Homo sapiens: one gene and its partners. The protein of the gene in region 2 purifies or fractionates together with the protein of the main gene of each other region. This does not show direct contact. Each region holds a gene or a part of one and is shown on either strand. Other genes may lie near its edges.

Region 1 (6,588 bases), on a different chromosome or scaffold from region 2:
ATAATGAAGAGATACTCCTTGTAAATTATCAGAAATAATCCACAATGATTAAATTATGCCAAAATCAAGTGATAAATTTCTGTAACTGAAGTTCCCCAAATGATCTTCAAAAAAAGTCCTAAGAGCATTACAACAGTATATTCAATGTCCTATGATATTTAATCAATCTTTTAGCGTCACATTAAGGACTAGAAAAGGGCATTTACTTGGTGTTTCAGCTTTCTAGAGTCGGAGCTTTCTCAAAGTCCTCATCCCCATAAATGCATTTTTCTTTTTTCCTTTTTTTGTTTGTTTGTTTGATCTTCACTGGGCAGCTATCTTGACTTTGGAAGGAAATGGTTATCTATCCCAGGATGTCCCACACCAGCTGATTATGTTGCCCAGGCTGGTCTCAAACTCCTAGGCTAAAGGGATCCTCCCACCTCGGCCTCCCAAAGTGTTGGAATTACAGGCATGAGCCACTAAAGGCATTTTTCATTACTGAGATTAGGCTCACAAACACATCCATAATCCAACCAGGTAATGTTTCTAAGGTAACCTTTTAGCAGATTTATTACAGTACAATAGATTATGAGGGGGAATTCTATACATACAAATAATATACAAACACAATTACCTAATTTATTAATTTACAAAACCCAAAAAGTTAAACCAACTAAAAATTTATCAGTATCACCATCAGAACATCTTTTCTTTTTTTTCTTTTTTTTTTGAGACAGAGTCTCACTCTGTTGCCTAGGCTGGAGTGCTGGAGTGCTGGAGTGCAGTGGTGCCATCTCAGCTCACTATAGCCTCCGCCTTCCGGGTTCAAGCGACCCTCCTGCCTCAGCCTCCTGAGCAGCTGGGGCTACAGGCGTGAGCCACCCCGCCCGGACGATTTTTGTATTTATAGTAGAGACGGGGTTTCACCGTGTTGGCCAGGGTGGTCTCGAACTCCTGACCTCAGGTTATCCACCCACCTTGGCCTCCCAAAGTGCTGGAATTACAGGCGTGAGCCACCACATCCGGCCTCAGAATATCTTTTCTAGCACAAACTCTAAAATTGTTAACTTAATTTTACCAACATTGGTTTCACTAGCTAATAAAACAGAAAAATCACTTGGCATAAAATGAAAAACTATTCCCTATGTCCTCTTTTCATTAACAGTCTAAATTATTCTGAATCACTCTTAGCTAATTACAATTACATACAGCTTGACATTCATTTTCCTAATACCTTTAGAACTTTCTTAAGACATATAAAATAATACCAGGGATTTTGTCTACATTCCATTTTATTTTATTCATACTTTCATTTTCTTCCTACCTGAATTACGAATTTTTAGAAGTTGAACAAGTTCTTTTGAAAGTCAGTTGGAAGCTTATATAAATAGGAACACTTTTTTTTTTAAGGTAAAGTTATCAAGCCAGGCATGGTGGTGTGTGCCTCTTGTCCCAGCTACTCCAGAGGCTGAGGCCAGAGGACTGCTTGAGCTCATGAATTTGTGAGCAGCCTGGGAAACACAGCGAGACCCCATCTCTTTAAGTTCAGGGGTTGATGTGCAGGCTTGTTACATAGCTAAACTTGTGTCCTGGGGGTTTGTTGTACAGATTATTTCATCATCAAGGTATTAAGCCTAGTACCCATTAGTTATTTTTCCTGATCCTCTCCCTCCACCCACCCTCCATCCTCCAATAGGCCCCAGTGTGTGTTGTTCCCCTCTGTGTGTCCATGTGTTCTCATTATTTAGCTCCCACTTATAAGTGAGAACATGCAGTATTTGGTTTTCTTTTCCTATGTTAGTTTGATGAGGATAATGGCTTCCAGCTCCATCTATGTCCCTGCAAAGGACTTGATCTCATTCTTTTTTTATGGCTGCATAGTATTCCACAATGTGTATGTACCACATTTTCTTTATCCAGTCTATCAGTGATAGGCATTTAGGTTGATTCCATATCTTTGCCATTATGAACAGTTCTGCAATGAATGTGTGCATGCATGTGTCTTTATAATAGAATGATTTACGTTCCTTTGGGTATATAGTAATGGTATTGCTGAGTCAGATGGTTTTTGTCTTAGAAGACCCCATCTCTTAAAAAAAAAAACAGTTGTTAAACAAAAAAACCAAACTCTAATATCACACAAAAGAATACAATATGACACTCCTGAATTTCACAGATTTTTCATTTCATGTCTTGGGCTTAAGCGCAGTGCAGGCAATATTTCAGCGGTCTTTAACTTTGTCTGCATATTAGAATCACCCAAAAAAGTTTTTATCTTGATCCAGCCAAATAATCTAAATATCTGGGTGTAGGCCTAGGTATTTCTTTTTAAGGCTCCCCCAGTGATTTTTAAAGTACAGTGAGGGTTGGGAATCAGTACAATACTACCTAGTGCTGCTACTGTTGTCCAATACAAGGATGTAATATTTGAATTAGCCAACAATTATCCTTCTTGATAGTAGTATAAACAACCCTCACCTATGAATATTCTCATTAATTTTTTTCCATGCTACAGACTTTGGTTGGTATGTGATCTTTGCCAACTATAACTAATGACTTAGAAAGAGATGTGGGTTCTAGTCCTGATCTGTCCATTTGTGAACCTATTCTAATTACTCCCACCAGCTAGGCCTGAATCATTACCTATGAAATGCTGGTGTTGGATTAAATATCTAGGACCTTTTCTAACACTGTAACATTATAACCAGGATGTTTTACAAATTAAAAATAAGTAAGTTTTTTACTTATTTATCCAGTTTAGTTCCAGTAGTTGTGACTATTCTCAATAGCCATAGGAATCATGCTAAATTCCATGAAGGTACACAGAATGTATTTCCTCATTAGGAACAATATTCAAAGTTATTGTGAATGTCACAAGATGCTGAGGAAATGCCAAAGCAACCACATTTTTTCAGACCTGATGCTACTGTAGCAACAGACATTCATGGGGGAAATGCACTTGGTGAATAATTGTAATTAAAGTATCAATTAAAAAACTTAGGTTTTGTGGTCTCATTAAAGTTATTTACCTTATCTGTGCTTCTTCTATTACAAAATGGACATAATAATAGTACTTACTCTCGGGGTTGTGAGAATGAAATTATACAATGCATTTAAAGTATTTAGCAGCCAGGCATGGTGGTTCATGCCCATAATCCCAGCACTTTGGGAGGCTGGGGCAGGCAGAGAGCTTGAGCCCAGGAGTTTGAGACCAGCCTGGGCAATATGGCAAAACCCTATCTCTTCAAAAAATGCAAAAAATTAGCAGGGAGTGGTGGCGCACACCTGTAGTCCCACCTACTTAGGCAGCTGAGATGGGATAATTGCTTGAACCCAGGAAGCAGAGGTTGTAGTGAGCAGAGATAGTCCCTCTGCATTCCAGCCTGGGGGATAGAGTGAGACCCTACCACAAAAAAATAAAAATTAAAAAAAAAAAAGTATTTAGCAAATGCCTTGAAAACATGTGCTCAATACTTTTTAAAGATCTTTTTCCCCTAGAAACCTTAAAGTATAAAGCCACGTCTATAAGTCAAGAAAAGCAAAGGAATTTAAAATCAATTATTTTATTTCTACCATCAGGTAATGAAAAGGACTAGGATCCATCTATACCATCAGATGATTTTTGGATGAAGCAATTCTGAACCGGGTAATAGAACTGCTTGGGAAAGCCCAACTTTTTCTGGAAACAAAAGATTAACATTTGTCCCTTCATAATCTCAGTGAATACAATATACGATAAATTCCAAGGAATTCAAATTTAACTAGCATTCATTAGGTTGATGAAACTAACTCTATAAATTACATTTGATTTAGCTGTACAAAAACATTAAGATGAACACAAACAAGAATAGTATATGCAAGGGTCTACTTTTTACTTCACAATAGACCACAAGGAAGTAATACTTATACTCCTAAAACAGAGGCAGTTACAAATTTGCAGAAACCACAAACTGAAATAAACAGACATATATAAAACAGAGAGAAATTTGGCTAATATTTTAATATCCCAATGAAGAATCTGAAAAACACTCTCTATGAAGAACATACGGAATCCACTCTTCAACAGAAAAGCCTGCCCATTAATGACACTCCAAGAAGTGTCATGATATATGCGATTCACTTTCAAGTCTTCAGCAAACTAAAAATAGAGTTATGAGACTTAAACAGATAATAGACAGTGAAAGCAAATATGACAAAACAAATTATTATATGATAAACAACCCGTTAACAAAGGAAGGTAGATGGAAAGTATGTGGTTATTCTTTGCATTTTTTCAGCTTTTCTCTATGTTGAAAACTCTTATGATACAAAATTTGGAAATGAACATACATTCTAAGCTTAAAAGTATAACTGAAATTAGTCTCTTTTCCCCTTAAATATTAAACATATTTCAGTAATAATTATATTTTATTTGAGGATTTTCAATGAACTATAAAACCAATCAATAGAGTTGAGATAGACATAGAATTACCTTTGAATATAACAGAAGCTCCTGAATATGAACAAGAAGGGCTTCTTTTGAAGAAAGAAGAGCCCGCTTCCTGGGCTCAGAATTTCTTGTTTCAGCAGCCTGAATTTATTCCACTGGAATCCATCAAAGTATCAAAACCACGCAGATTCAATTAGAGTCAGTCAACTCACAGTAAGCAAAGTTAGTTCTTGGCTTTTCCTTTTTTAACAGGAAGTTGACCTGTAGCTTCCAAATACTTATTAATGACGTCTTCTTGTGTGGATGGTAAACATGGCTGATACCTGCTATACTCCATTGTGTATTCTCCCTTTCCCTAGGGATTTAAAAAAAAGAGAGGGTTTTTTGTTTGTTTGTTTGTTTTTTAAACTATCAAGTAAAAGTCATACAAGGTCAAGATTTTATAATATGATCATTCTGTAGGGTGGTCTTTTGAAGGGTAAGTTTAAATTTGCCTACCTCTGTGCATGACCTAAGTTCAGTGGAATAACCAAACATATCATTTAGAGGGACCTGAAAACAAACATAGTAGATATTTTAGCACTGCTTATTGGAAAATATTTGAGAAAAATACAGACGCATTTTAGCCATTTAATTCCTTTAGATTAAGATTTCTGCTCACTACTCTTAGTTTAAAATAATTAAAAGCCAAAGAGAAACATTTCTGTTTTATTCCAAGTGGAAATCCTATTTGAAAATTATTTCATTTGACAGTCGCAACCAGAAACCAAATCTTTCCACTTCGTGGAGTGAACACCATTGACAGCCTTCCCTCCTCATCCCCACTCCGCTCTGTAGCCCCAGCTCAAGCACTCAGAAGTGCTTCTTCTGAGAAAATGTGAATACGACTTTCCTTTGGACACCTTAATGATATGCTGAGAGTAGTGTTTTCCAGGAGGCCTTATGAAATGTAATAAACACCTTCTCCCTTGAGATTTAAGTCAAGAAAGGTACAGGCAAGGTAATTAAGAGGGATAAATTAAAGATAACAATAAAGTAATTATGCAAATAAAGCTAAAATGAGAGAGATAATATACATCTTATTTTATTTTTCCTTTTCTTTTTAATTTGTCCATCTGTGCTTATTCAAGAAAGAGAGATAATATACATCTAAGAAAATGACACATTCACAAAAGGTCAAGATAAAATAAATCTTATTTTTAACTTCTGCACTTAAGAGTTGCTTTAATAGCAAATTACAGAAAATGCCACATGTATAAAGCCACAAATTCAGCAAGGAAATGTGTCCATTTGCAAAAACAAAAGCTAACCTGGATTTCCTTCTATGGTTAATAAAAGCAGGACTGCCAATGACCAAGACTACTTACATCTGCATACAGTGTAAAATAGTCCTCAACTCCATCTTGCCCAGTGATTACCCCATGGCGTCGGTTAATTCCTGCAATTACTTGTCCCTGAAATTCATTTGGAGCTACAACTTCCACAGCCATAATAGGTTCAAGAATACATAATGTTGCATTTGCCAAGGCTGGGTTAAAAAAAAAAAAAAGTTCATTAGTCTTCATACAAACTACAACTCTTCTGTCCAGATATAAAAAAGGGAGAAAAATGATGCTTTCCCAAAGGTACAAACACAAACGGCAAGGTTAAAATATTCGACCTAGACTCATTTTTCCTGTAGTAATAACAGTCACTCTTCTAAATGGAAATTCCAACATTTAATTTTAATATTGGTATTTCCATTATCATATTTTTATCCTTAAAACTCATTAAATAGCAGAGAATAATACAAAAGGGTCTTAAAACAACATCTGATGAAGTCCTTTACCATCTAAATTATCCAGCTGAGTTATTTATTCTCTCTGAAAATCGTCAGGGTTAAAGATAATAACTGTTACAAATTTGACCAAGGTAAACCCATTCTTTCTTTTTTTTTTTTTTTTGTCACCCAAGCTAGATTACAATGGGGCAATCTCGGCTCAATGCAACTCTGTCTCCCAGGTTCAAGCAATTCTCCTGCCTCAGCCTCCGAGTAGCTGGGATTACAGGTATCTGCTACCACTAATTTTTGTATTTTTAGTAGACACAGGCTTTCGACATGTTGGCCAGGCTGGATAAACCCATTCTTTCTTGTGGTCCCTGGCAGGCAGTTATTTTTAATTATAAGAAAATAATTT
Region 2 (5,365 bases):
AGGCTGACAGGAGAATCACTTGAACCTGGGAGGTGGAGGTTGCAGTGAGCCAAGATCTTGCCATTGCACTGCAGCCTGGGCAACACTGAGACTCCATCTCAAAAAAAAAGAAAAACAAAGAGTAGATTGGCAGAACTAGGGGACTGATTTGGGGCAAAGTGGAGAGGAGATAATGGATGGAAAGGAGGCAGGGAAAACTAACAGGTTTTTCGCCTGGCGGGTAGTTAACAAGGTCGATGGAGAGGCAACTGACTAAAATAGAGAAGCTGGTTCATTGGAAACAGAGATGACATCTTTTCCTTTCAGACAGTTTGAGTTTAAGGTGTCAACAGGACATCCAAACATATATGCCCAGTAAGCACATGAATATGAAACTCAGGGAAGTGGTTGTGGGGAGTCACCAGCAAATAGGTGGTGATAAAGTGTGTTAGAACAGTGGGCTAAGGATAACAGTCCATAAAATATAAACATTATTTTGGGTTAATATACAAAATGCAATGAAATTCAAACGACATGAAAATACAGAAAATGAAATTTAGTACTGTGAGAATGAAGAATTACTTCTGATATTTAAATAGTATGTTCCTACAGTTTAGAAAAATGAGGGTACTAAAGCACATTTTGATCCAGTCAGGACAAATGCCCTCTATACACTCAGATTGAGTCAAAGTTTTTACAAAGGTATGCTCAGAAAGACCAAAGAAAATTTGATGTTATCTTTAACAAATAATGCAACATTTTCAAAAAGGCCATTTTTATAACACTTTTTAAAGCATAATGAAAACACTTGGCTCTCAAGATTGTCCCAAGAATTATCCCCAATAAAATGCAGTAGGTTAATGATCTGATGTCAGGGTGCTAGCTGGTCAGGTTTATTCTGTAAGTAATTTTCTCCTACTATCTAGGATTTTGTTTTCACAGAATGGTAAAAATGTTAACACAGGTCTGCCGTATCCATTCAGCAAAACAGCATGAAGTGACTTGACTTGTCCTGTCACTTGTGGAACAAAGCCTTCTTTAAAAACTAAATGGTCTACTACAATTTAACAGCATCCCACCATCAAACTCTAAATATGAAAGATGAAGTAAGCAGCCACCAAATATAGCAATTCCGGCACTAAGTGAGTACCTAGAGACCTGCAAACTTCCTACTTCTGTCCTCCACTGCCATGTAGAATTTCAAGGTATCACTTCAGGGTGGGAGGTGATATAGGTTATCAGTATTTCTCTATAGGGAGGGGGTGCTGTTGACATTTTTGGCAGCACAGGTTTTTTAGTGTGTGGACCTGTGTTCCCCTCACAACTCAATGTTTCACATTCCAACTCTGCCACCAACCCTTCCTCCAACCCCCAATCCGAAGAGTGCCTCCACTATCTAGAGACACAGAATATAAAATACTTCTGTGTCCCACCAATTATCACACATGCTAATTTCATTTCTAGAATGGTAAAAATGAAGCAAAGACTAGTATCTACTCATAAGCATAGAAAGTTTGACATTTTCTTTTTTCTGTCAACACCTAGCTATTAACATCAAAGGCTGGAATCCTGGATGGTCAGTTCCCTTTGGGCAGACCCAACCTAACCATTTTTGCCATTTTAAAAAAGTGTACATGAGATTATCAGGTAGACTCAGTAAAGCACGACTGGTCCACCTCTAAACAGCAAAGACAAACACATCAAAAAGTGACTGTGATTCTCAAAGGACAAAGCCCACTCCCAACTCCCAGGGGAAAATGGACCTTAGTCTTGTTTCACCTGTGTAATTGGAGGCAGAATAGGATGTGAATTCCGATGTGCTCTGCGTCTGGTTCCACACCATCTTACAGTGAAAAGTGCTGAGTGACTGTAAACCCAACAGGAAAAAACATTCAAAGTGTCATCACTACAGAAACAAACCCAGCAGGACCACTTCTGCATGCAGGCAGTATTAGGTCTCAGATGCTCCCTTTCTGCCTCCTGATAGAGTGGATGCAGGAACTTTGGGGACATGATGAACCACACACAAAATGAACGAAATGGCAGAGCACTCTCATTTTGGAAAGTTTCTCTCAGGTAATATCCCATCACTGCCTATTAAGACTAAAGGATTAAGTACTAATTTACACTCATAAGGGACTAATAAAATTTCCTGGCCTGTCACTTAAGGAGAAAAACCAGCAGACCAGACGTGAAGATAAACCCTCAGAGCTACTAATGCCTCATTCAGGACTCTTTCCCACAGATTAGTGTTGAGATTATCACACGGCTTACACAGTAGGGAGGAAATGCATAGCCAGGACTCTTACCAAGTCCGGTAAATAAGGAATACCTAGATACTACTGTTTCTGTCAATGCCATAGACACTTAGATGACCCGTTAATTTTACTTCATCCCAACAATGACCGTGCAGAATCTGCGTCCCTGACGCAAAGCAGGAAGCAAATATTTGGGCAAGAAAATAAAGTCAGTTACAGATTTCACAAGTATCTTGTACACCAGTCTGTAATTTTTAATTAGAATTAGCTAAAAGACATTGTACCTTTCGCGTGTATGACTGAGCATAACAGTGCTTAACAGTGTCTTTATTAAGTGAATGCCTGAAAGTATTCAACATTAAATTCAATTTATTTCACATTAATGTTTGCAAATACATCATCAATTCTTACATATTTCAAATCAACTTCAAGTACAGAAGGCTTCCTCTCAAATAAGTCTCCTGAGGTGACATAAAGACTGAAAGAAGCCTATGACTTGAGTCCAAGTCTCTTAACCAACAATCACCATATCGTCACTGGTGAACTCATACGTGGGGACTTCAAGGTTGAGAGGAGCAGGACCCAATCTGATCCTGCCAGATGCATCATAGTGTGACCCATGGCAAGGGCAGTAATAACCACCAAAATCTCCTGCATTTGCAATGGGTACACAGCCAAGATGAGTGCAAACACCTATCAGGATAACCCATTCAGGTTTCTTTACTCGATCTAGATCATGCTGTGGGTCCCTCAACTGTGATAATTCAACTGCAGCTTCCTGCTCAATTTCCTTCTGGGTTCTATGACGCACAAACAGGGGTTTGCCTCTCCATTTGAAAGCCATGTTCTTGCCTTCTGGAATATCGGATAACTTGATTTCGATTTTCGCCAGGGCCAACACATCAGCAGAAGCACTCATGCTGGAAACGAACTGGGTGACGGCATTCTTGGCAGCATATGCGACACCCACAGTAGTTACTCCAGTTACCAAATAGGAGAAACCTTTCCTAGCCTCGCTGCTTTCTCTTGAAGACTTCGTACTATCTAAAACTTCAAGGCGGCGGTATTCAGAGAAGTCAGGCACCTTGATGTCTGTGTGGGAATAACAAACAGAAGCAGGGACTGCAAGACAAACAGAAGGTTAAAAAACACAATTAGATGAGTATCCCGAAGGGAGTATATATCAGGAAATAGCCCTTTATGGATTCACAGGTAAAAAATCAAATTCTAAAAATGTGAAATATGGCACTCACTGGGTCTCAGAAATAGTCAAATTGGCGGTGCTAGCATATAAAATCTTAAAAATGAAATGAAGTGAACCACCACCTATCATACTGGTATGAAATCACAAGATACTATTTGTAAATTGAGCTCCCCCTAGTTGGTTGAACATTGCTGATTCAGGATTCACAACACCTCAGTGCATCATGCTAAAAACGTTAAACAGCAAAATAAACAGTAATAACTCAAAGTTTCCGAAAATTCAACTGCCAAGACTTACTATATAAATCATGCTAAATACCTCCCATACTCTCTGGATTAGAAGGACACCCTAAAACTCATCTAGTCCACACAGTAAGTTGACGTGTGATCACCTTATTAAGGCAAATGTCTGCCCCTTATAGTCCAATCTATGTTCTCGGAAAAAACTGTTAATTCATAAAATAATAATGATATAATAAACATTCTGTGAACTGTATAACTCTGCTGCAGAAAAATTAGCGTTTCTATTTTATACTCTAGTGTATAAATTAGTATTACTTTAACTTAAAACCACTAATAGGCAGAGAAGGACATCCTTATCAGAGCTCTCAAAATAAAATGAAAACTGCAAAAGAACTAATTATTTCAATTTAGCAAGGGAAAAAAAGGGCAAAATTTTCATATCTCCCCCTCTTCAGTAAAGGGCAATAGTTACTGTAAAAGTAGGGGTATTATCTTCCCTTTTCACTGCTGTAGTTCTCTCAACTGGGGCACTTCTAGTCTAGGCCATAAAAGAGCTCAAATGAATGTTAAACAAATAATTACTATGTAGTACTTTGGGAGCAAGGAGTTTCTTTGGTAGTTTAAAAAACAAAAACAAGACACAGTTACATCCCTCTCTCCAATACTATTTTTAAATATCTGACCAAAAAAAAATTTTACCTAGTACCACTTTTAGGTATGTTTCAGGAAGCAAACCTCTTTGCAAATTGTATATTCATCTTAAGAAATTTGCCACAAAGTTTCCTTTTTAAAAAAGGGGACACTAAAAATTCCTCTTTTAGAAAATGTGTATCCAAAATAAAGATCTTTTATGATGCATTTTTATTGTAATAAACTGCAATTCTACCTTGCTCTACTAGGATATCATCCTAATATACTGTACTTCCTTGAGTAGTCAAACATTACAATATGGAATACCTGAACTGCTTTTCACATGATTCTCAAGGTCAATAACTTTATGGAAGCCAGAAGTATTCAAACAATAATGAAACCTACCAAAATCACTCTATGTGCTTTTCTGACTAAATCATTTCCTGGAGAAGACCAGGACACAGATAATGGCAACTTGAGACTCACATCCCAGAATCTGTGGAGTCAAAGTGACATTACATCCTATACTACTACTCTAACAAATAAATGCTAACCTGCCAGTATATACTGGCATTTGGAATTAAGCATAAATTACTTGCTCCTAGCACTACCTGGGATTACAGAAAAGATGAGCTTCCTCCCTAAAAGATAAAGGAATAAAAAGTTCATACTTCTACATTAAAAACAGTATCCACAACCCTTAACAGTATACAAGGAAATGTACAAGAAAACTCAATAAAATGGCTTTGCCCTTCTCATTCAGAGATTTGGTGGCAAAAGTCTCCTCCCACTCTATCTAGCTGGTTACACTTTAGTAGGCTACACCACCAAGAATCCTTTCGGAAATTAAACTGCCCTGTTGCAAAAATCATTCTCCAAATATTTACATGAGCTGCATTAGGTCTGACTTTCAGTAAGATGCTAGATTTAATTCTAACCTAAAGCAAAATCAAATACTTAAAGGAGAAAATTTAAGGAATTTTAACAAAACAAGTTTTATTTTAAGGTTGAGCTCCAATGCGCCTTGGAAATCTGCATGAAAATAGTACAAC
Region 3 (7,322 bases), on a different chromosome or scaffold from region 2:
TACCTATTCCCACATTCACTTGCACAGATGAATTAATAACTACATAAATACATTAATAAAGTGGAAGGACAGACATAGATTGTATCCATAAGTCTGCCTAGGGAAGTAAAGAGGATAGTACTGAAGACTGAGTTTGTTTGATTGATGCATGTGAGGAGTGTGTGCCAAGCACAGAGAATCATACCTGCAAAGCCACAGATGCAGGAGAAGTATTGCAAGGGAACAAGCAGTTCAGTTTACTTGGAGTATAAAGTGAAAAGAGGAAGGGAAGGAAACAGGGTAGTAAGAAAAAGTTGATGAGGCCAATAGGAAAGGAAAAGCTTATAGTCTATACAAAGCAGTTTAAATTTTATCCTTAAAGATTTAGGAAGCCACTGAAAAAATTTAATCAGGATGGAGACACAATTCTATTTGTGATTGAGAAAGAAGATCCTTCTGGTAGCGGTGTAGCACAGACTTTCTTAAAGTTGAGTAGGCTACATTCTTTCAAGAGAAGAATTTTTTCCTGAACACTTCAGGGACTGCTGATACTTTTAATTATAATGTTACTATATAACAAAATATAACTTCCATATTGTTACAGCTTTTAGTCATAAAAGCAATATAAATGTATATCCTGTCTAAACTAAACTACAAACTAAATTAAAATATAGTTAAAGGGCCGGGCTCTGTGGCTCACGCCTGTAATCCCAGCATTTTGTGAGGCCAAGGCAGGCAGATCACCTGAGGGTGGGAGTTGGAGATCAGCCTGGCCAACATGGTGAAACCCTGTCTCTATTAAAAGTACAAAAATTAGCTGGGCGCGGTGGCGCACGTCTGTAGTCCCAGCTACTTGGGAGGCTGAGGTAGGAGAATTGCTTGAACCCAGGAGGTGGAGGTTGCAGTGAGCCAAGATTGTGCCACTGCACTCCAGCTTGGGCAACAGAGCAAGACTCCATCTCAAAAAAAAAAAAAGTAGTTAAGCATAATTTAATGCAATGGTGTTTTACTTAACGTAGTTGCTTATTCAGAACATGCAGTGGTATTAACTGTTTTGATGCAGGTTCATCAGAGTTTGAAGAAAAGGGAAAAGGAGATCTGAGAAGTTGCTGGTGGATTTAAGTTGGATCATTTTTAATGTCCTTCAGCAGTCATAGGTAAATAAATCCCTTTTAAATTATATTTTGGCTGTTGAACTACACTTGACATAACTCTACTTGCAGAATAACATCTCAGACTGAACCTCACGGATTATAGCTTCAGTAGTAACAACTACAAGAATTTAAACTTATTATATTTTTCTTTCTACGCTAATCTAAAAATGCTTAATATAAACATATAAACGCATTCTGTATCATCTATATCTTCATAATAAAGCTCTGCTGCAAGATTTTAGTGCCTACATTTGCTTTTGAGTTTACTATCCAATTACTACTATTTGAATTATATCAGATTTGTGTGAGGAAATGGGGGTGGGGGATTCTTAATAGGTAAATGCTGCTTTCCATCACTTCTGGCTGGATAAAAGCTAACCGATTCAAGGAGTTCAAGGAGTTCTGAAGAAGAGAAAAATGTTCAGAATACCTGGAAACTGGAGGAAGAATTAAGAAAAGTCTGGATAAGCCTGGGCGCGGTGGCTCATGCCTGTAATCCCAGCACTTTGGGAGGCCGTGGCGGGTGGATTGCCTGAGGTCAGGAGTTCAAGACCAACCTGGCCAACATGATGAAACCCCATCTCTACTAAAAATCCAAAAAATTAGCCAGGCATGGTGGCAGGCACCTGTAATCCCAGCTATTTGGGAGGGCTGAGGAAGGGGAATCACTTGAACCCCGGAGGCGGAGGTTGCAGTGAGCTGAGATCACGCCACTGCACTCTAGCCTGGGCAACAAGAGCAAAACTCTGTCTTGAAAAAAACGAAAAGGCTGGATGAAAGCTAAATTTACCATTTATTGAGTGTTGACAATGTGCTAGGTACTATTATATCATCTGACACTTTTTTTTTTTTTTTTTTTTTTGAGACGGAGTCTCGCTCTGTCGCCCAGGCCGGACTGCGGACTGCAGTGGCGCAATCTCGGCTCACTGCAAGCTCCGCTTCCCGGGTTCACGCCATTCTCCTGCCTCAGCCTCCCGAGTAGCTGGGACTACAGGCGCCCGCTACCGCGCCCGGCTAATTTTTTGTATTTTTAGTAGAGACGGGGTTTCACCTTGTTAGCCAGGATGGTCTCAATCTCCTGACCTCATGATCCACCCGCCTCGGCCTCCCAAAGTGCTAGGATTACAGGCGTGAGCCACCGCGCCCGGCCGACACTTTTAATCCTTACAAAAACCCTATTAGATTCATATTACTATCTGTTTTTATGGGGAAACTGAGGCTCAGAGAGCTAGAGTCACACAACTGGTAATTAACAGAGACAAGATTGGAACCAGCTGGGACTAACTCCAAGTCTATGCTCTAAACTATTAGGCAATACTGCCCAAATGAAAATGATTACATAGTAATTAAGTATATTAACAAAAAGATGATTTTGTATTCTTACTCTATAAATCAAAAGTCATGTTCAATTGTGGCAAGTAGGTTTTCTGAGAGATTTATCTTCATGAGAGATTTCAATAGATTGGTCTGGAAAACTCTGTGGCAACTCAAGGTAAAGTAAAAGGGAGGAGACGCAAAAACTGCTTTAACACTAAAAATCTGTAAACAAAGTTAATGGTAATCCCTCTATTGGAATGGAAATCCCAAATCAGTAATAATAGCTCATGAAAGCAAGGTGTCAGAAAACTGCTTTGCCAGCAAATCATTTGTCTGTTTAGAGCTCATCATTCTTTTTTCTTTTTTAAATCATCACGGATCAACATTTTTAATTTTTTTTTTTTTTTTTTTTTTTTTTAGATGGAGTCTCGGTCTGGAGTGCAGTGGCGCGATCTCGGCTCACTGCAACCTCCGCCTCCTGGATTCAAGCGATTCTCATGCCTCAGCCTCTGGAGTAGCTGGGATTACAGGCACGCGCCACCACACCGAGCTAATTTTTGTATTTTTAGTAGAGACGCGGTTTCAGCATGTTGGCCAGGATGCCCTGGGTCTCTTGACCTCGTGATCCACCCGCCTCTGCCTCCCAGCGTGCTGGGATTACAGGCATGAGCCACTGCGCCCGGACTTTTTTTTTTTTTTTTTTTTTTTTTTTTTTTGAGACCGAGTTTCACTCTTGTTGCAATGACGCGATCTCGGCTCACTGCAACCTCCGCCTCCCGGGTTCAAGCGATTCCCCTGCCTCAGCCTCCCGAGTAGCTGGGATTACAGGCATAAGCCACCATGCCCGGCTAGTTTTGTATTTTTAGTAGAGACGGGGTTTCTCTGTGTTGGTCAGGCTGGTCTCGAACTCAGGTGATCCGCCCGCCTCGGCCTCCCAAAGTGCTGGGATTACAGGCGTGAGCCACAGCGTCCAGCCAACGTTTTTAATTCTTAAAACTGTGTTTGAATGAGTGTTGGGTTTTTGTTGTTTGGTTTTCTTTGGGGTAAGGCGGTTATCACCTTACACAAAAAATTTACATCATAATATGAAAATGCCCATTGGTTCATTCAAGGAAAAACATAAAGAATTTCTAACAGAATGGATTAATGGGGTGGAAGAAATTTATCCATTCTCTAAAAATTTTTCAAATCCCAAAAACTTTTTTTTTTCATTTTACAAAATATTTACTTCAAACAGTAGCTGGCATTTTGCATTTAAGAGTTCGACCAAAAGGGACAGAAATATAAATTGCTAATTATTAGCAATGGAAATGAAAATGAATCAGAAGTGACAATAAAGATTTCTAAAATTACAAGTCGATGAAAAATGAATTTACTGTAAATTGGTTAACACAAATCGCTGTAGTAACATATCTGCTATGTGAAATTTTTAAAATAAAAACCAGGGCGGAGAAGGGGAGAAGGAGATCTCTTTCCAAGGCCCACCACCCAAATTCTAATTCTTAGTTCACAGATCCAAATAATAATAATGTGTTGTTCTATGACTTCTAGTATTAAAAGTAAATATAAATTTACTCTGCATATTAAACATTTACATTATTCTAGGACTTCTCCTTTAAATTACGATAGTACACACACAAAAACCTTATTTATCTAATTGCCTTTCGTTGGCACATAAAGACAAAGATCGTTTGCAACATAATCGCGTTCTGATAGGTTTGACCCTCTCTAGTCTTCGTAGAAGGTGGCCAAGGTTTCCGTTACCCCGGCGTCCCTCGGGCACCGCGGAAACGAAACTCCATCAGGCTCCGCCCCACGGTCTGCGGAGTGAGCCAATCAGGGCACAGCCTGCGTTGACCGCGTGCCGGGTGTCATGGCGGCCTGCAGGTACTGCTGCTCGTGCCTCCGGCTCCGGCCCCTGAGCGATGGTCCTTTCCTTCTGCCACGGCGGGATCGGGCACTCACCCAGTTGCAAGTGCGAGCACTATGGAGTAGCGCAGGGTCTCGAGCTGTGGCCGTGGACTTAGGCAACAGGTAAGGAGTGACGTGCGTTCACTGTATTGTCATAAGGTGTCTTGTCCAGCCAGCTTGAGCGTATTCATCTCCCAGGGTAGAAACCCGGTATCCCAGCTCTATTTAATCTCTCCTTACCCTAAACCTAAATTCCAAATTTCCCTTTCCGGGTTTGGAATGTGTCTCCTCGGACCCTCCTTCCCGCGCTATGTCGTTCTCTCTGTTGGTGTGTGCCGGGCTTCTTTGCTCCATCCGACTCTGTCCGTCCACCTGACTTCCGATCTCTTTACTTTCCGGGACCACTGGGCTCTTAAGTGGGAAACATTCCACCTAGGAATAACGAGTTGACGTGGGTGAGACGAGGCCCCCCGGGATGCTGGCCCGGACCCTGGAAGCTGGGGCTCTGATGCCCCTCGAGCTGGGACACAGACCTCAGCAGAGGCTCCGGGTGGCTAGTGCACCACGGGTCCCCCACGTCCCACTCCTCGGGCTCCTTCAGCCTCCTCTTCACCAGGAGCCTACCTTGTAGAAGTTGAACACCAGGTCCAGTTCACAGACATTGTGGAAATATTCGTTTAAGACCTGGGAGAGGAAGGCAGAGATGGTAAGAGATGGACAGGGAGAGAGCCACACACGCACAGAGATGGGAACAAGGTCATCAGAAAGAGACAGCAAAAAAAAGAGACCAAGAGGGAGGCAGGGGAGAGAGAGAGACAGTGACAGGGAGAGAGGCAAGGAGACACACAGAGAGAAACAAAAGCAAAGATCGATGCAAAGAGATGGCAAAAGGTCAGGCGCTCACACCTGTAATCCCAGCACTTTGGGAGGCTAAGACGGAAGGATGACTTGAAGTTAGGAGTACAAGATATCATGTCATCCAATCTAATTGATTGCCTAAAGTGTGACCACTATGACCCTGGGTTAGGAGGAAAAGGAAAAGTCAGTTTTTTGAACGCCAGTTATATGATCCTCGCAATCTTTTTAAACCTGTCGTAAAGGTACTATTACCCTCATTTTATAGTTAAGACTACAGAGGCTCAAAAAAGGTTAGATAACTTTCTAAGAGTCTATAAAAAAGTTAGTATTATGGGACTAGGTGGTTTTTGAATTTCTGTTTTTTGCTTACAAAGCCCATACTTTTTTTTAGGGGACCGCTTTTTAAAAAAAAAGTTTGCTTTAATCGTTCTTAGAATAAATGGAATTGCTAATGCAAACTTCATATATCTAAATTTTTTACGTGTACTTTGAAAAAATTTGGACCCCAGTTCATACAAAAAGCAAAAAAATCATTTTGAATCCAGGTCTCGCACTCTAACTTTGATAAGTAGTTGACATTGAACAGGTTAATTCACCATTTTCTTGTGCAAAGTGTGGAGAGTGGATTCCATCAAGGGTCTGCAAACTTTTCTATAAAGGACCAGATAATATATATATTAGGCTTTTTGGGGTACACACTGTGTGTATGTGTTTACAAACCCTTTAGAAATATTTTAAAAAACGGCCGAGCACAGTGGCTAACACCTGTAATCCGAGCACTTTGGGAGGCTGAGGTGGGTGGATCTCCTGAGGTCAGGAGTTCGAGACCAGCCTGGCTACAATGGTGAAACCCCGTCTTTACTAAAAATACAAAATTAGCTGGGCGTGGTGGCAAGCACCTGTAATTCCATTTACCTGGGAGGCTGAGGCAGGAGAATCGGTTGAACCCAGGAGGCAGAGGTTGCAGTGGCAGAGATCGTGCCATTGCACTCCAGCCTGGGTGATAAGAGTGAAACTTTTGTCTCAAAAAAAAAAAAAAAAAAAAAAAATATATATATATATATATATATATATATATAAACATTTTTAATTGAAGAGTAATATAGAAATAGGCCACAAGCTGTAGTTTGGTCACCCCTAGACTAGGTTATCTCTAAGGCTTATTCCACTCCCAGCATTCATTAATTCTGATTTTTGAGGGAAGTGGACATCTCTTCCATTCTTCAAGGACTACACATGCTTCAAAGAAATGCCCAGAACATTTCATTCAACAGACACATACTGTGAGATAGGCATTAGATACTGAAAACAAGATGCAGCTGCTGCCCTCCATATTTTCCATAAATAATCTACTTTGACTCTTTCATTTATTAATCAACCTGTTCCTCTTTTGTAGGTAGTTCTTTTTAAACTCGTGTCATGTGTTGAAATAACTAGACTAATAAAATATCATACCTGCTGGATAAATTCTTTCATTTTTGTCTTGTTTGCCATTGGCAACATTTATTGAGTGACTACTATGTACCAGGCACATTATATTTGTTATCATATATATTCTTTACTGCATTCTGGAAGATTATATAATTATTGTAGGTGTTTTTCAGATAGTATATTTAATGCTTACAGTAACCTTGGAGGCAGGTGTTTAATTTTCATTTCAGCAAGCTTTTATTGAGCATCTACTATGTATCAAATCACTGAGGATATTCAACAGAATATGCCACAGTGGGCAAAATGCTAAGGCAGTAGCCCCGTTAGTAGAGTAGAACTGTAGCTTTCACAGTTTTTCTTCCCTGTGTTTTGGGCCCACTTCTGTCTAGTTAAAGATCCTCCACTCCCCTTCACAGAGATCACTTAGGTATTCAGAATTTACATTGGTAGACAGAATGCCAGTTCCTGGTAAGTTTTGAGAAGTACTGGTGGCATGTTACTCAGGGTTAAACAAAATTTCAAGATGTCAGATTTACATTTGCCTCATGAAACCATTACTTAATACTGATTTCAGCTATAGGTTGTTGCAGGTCTGTGATACTACACAGTGTGACTGGTTTTGAGTATCTCATTCCTTCCATCTACTCAACATACTAATCCAGCATCAGCCTC

Evidence for each region.
Region 1: the proteins of UQCRFS1 (region 2) and GFM1 purify together in Homo sapiens (co-immunoprecipitation; 2 studies listed by BioGRID and IntAct, with this or other methods). This does not show direct contact.
Region 3: the proteins of UQCRFS1 (region 2) and PNPT1 purify together in Homo sapiens (co-immunoprecipitation; 2 studies listed by BioGRID and IntAct, with this or other methods). This does not show direct contact.

What each region holds. Positions count from the first base shown.
Region 1 is NC_000003.12:158,689,514-158,696,101, reverse strand, and holds the end of GFM1 (elongation factor G, mitochondrial), read right to left. Parts: intron 5,940-6,588; coding exon 5,779-5,939; intron 4,964-5,778; coding exon 4,910-4,963; intron 4,767-4,909; coding exon 4,635-4,766; 3' UTR 521-4,634; downstream 1-520. UniProt on the Homo sapiens protein: Mitochondrial GTPase that catalyzes the GTP-dependent ribosomal translocation step during translation elongation.
Region 2 is NC_000019.10:29,204,800-29,210,164, forward strand, and holds the end of UQCRFS1 (cytochrome b-c1 complex subunit Rieske, mitochondrial), read right to left. Parts: intron 3,360-5,365; coding exon 2,749-3,359; 3' UTR 521-2,748; downstream 1-520.
Region 3 is NC_000002.12:55,690,825-55,698,146, reverse strand, and holds the start of PNPT1 (polyribonucleotide nucleotidyltransferase 1, mitochondrial precursor), read left to right. Parts: upstream 1-4,302; 5' UTR 4,303-4,323; coding exon 4,324-4,484; intron 4,485-7,322. UniProt on the Homo sapiens protein: RNA-binding protein implicated in numerous RNA metabolic processes. Catalyzes the phosphorolysis of single-stranded polyribonucleotides processively in the 3'-to-5' direction. Mitochondrial intermembrane factor with RNA-processing exoribonulease activity.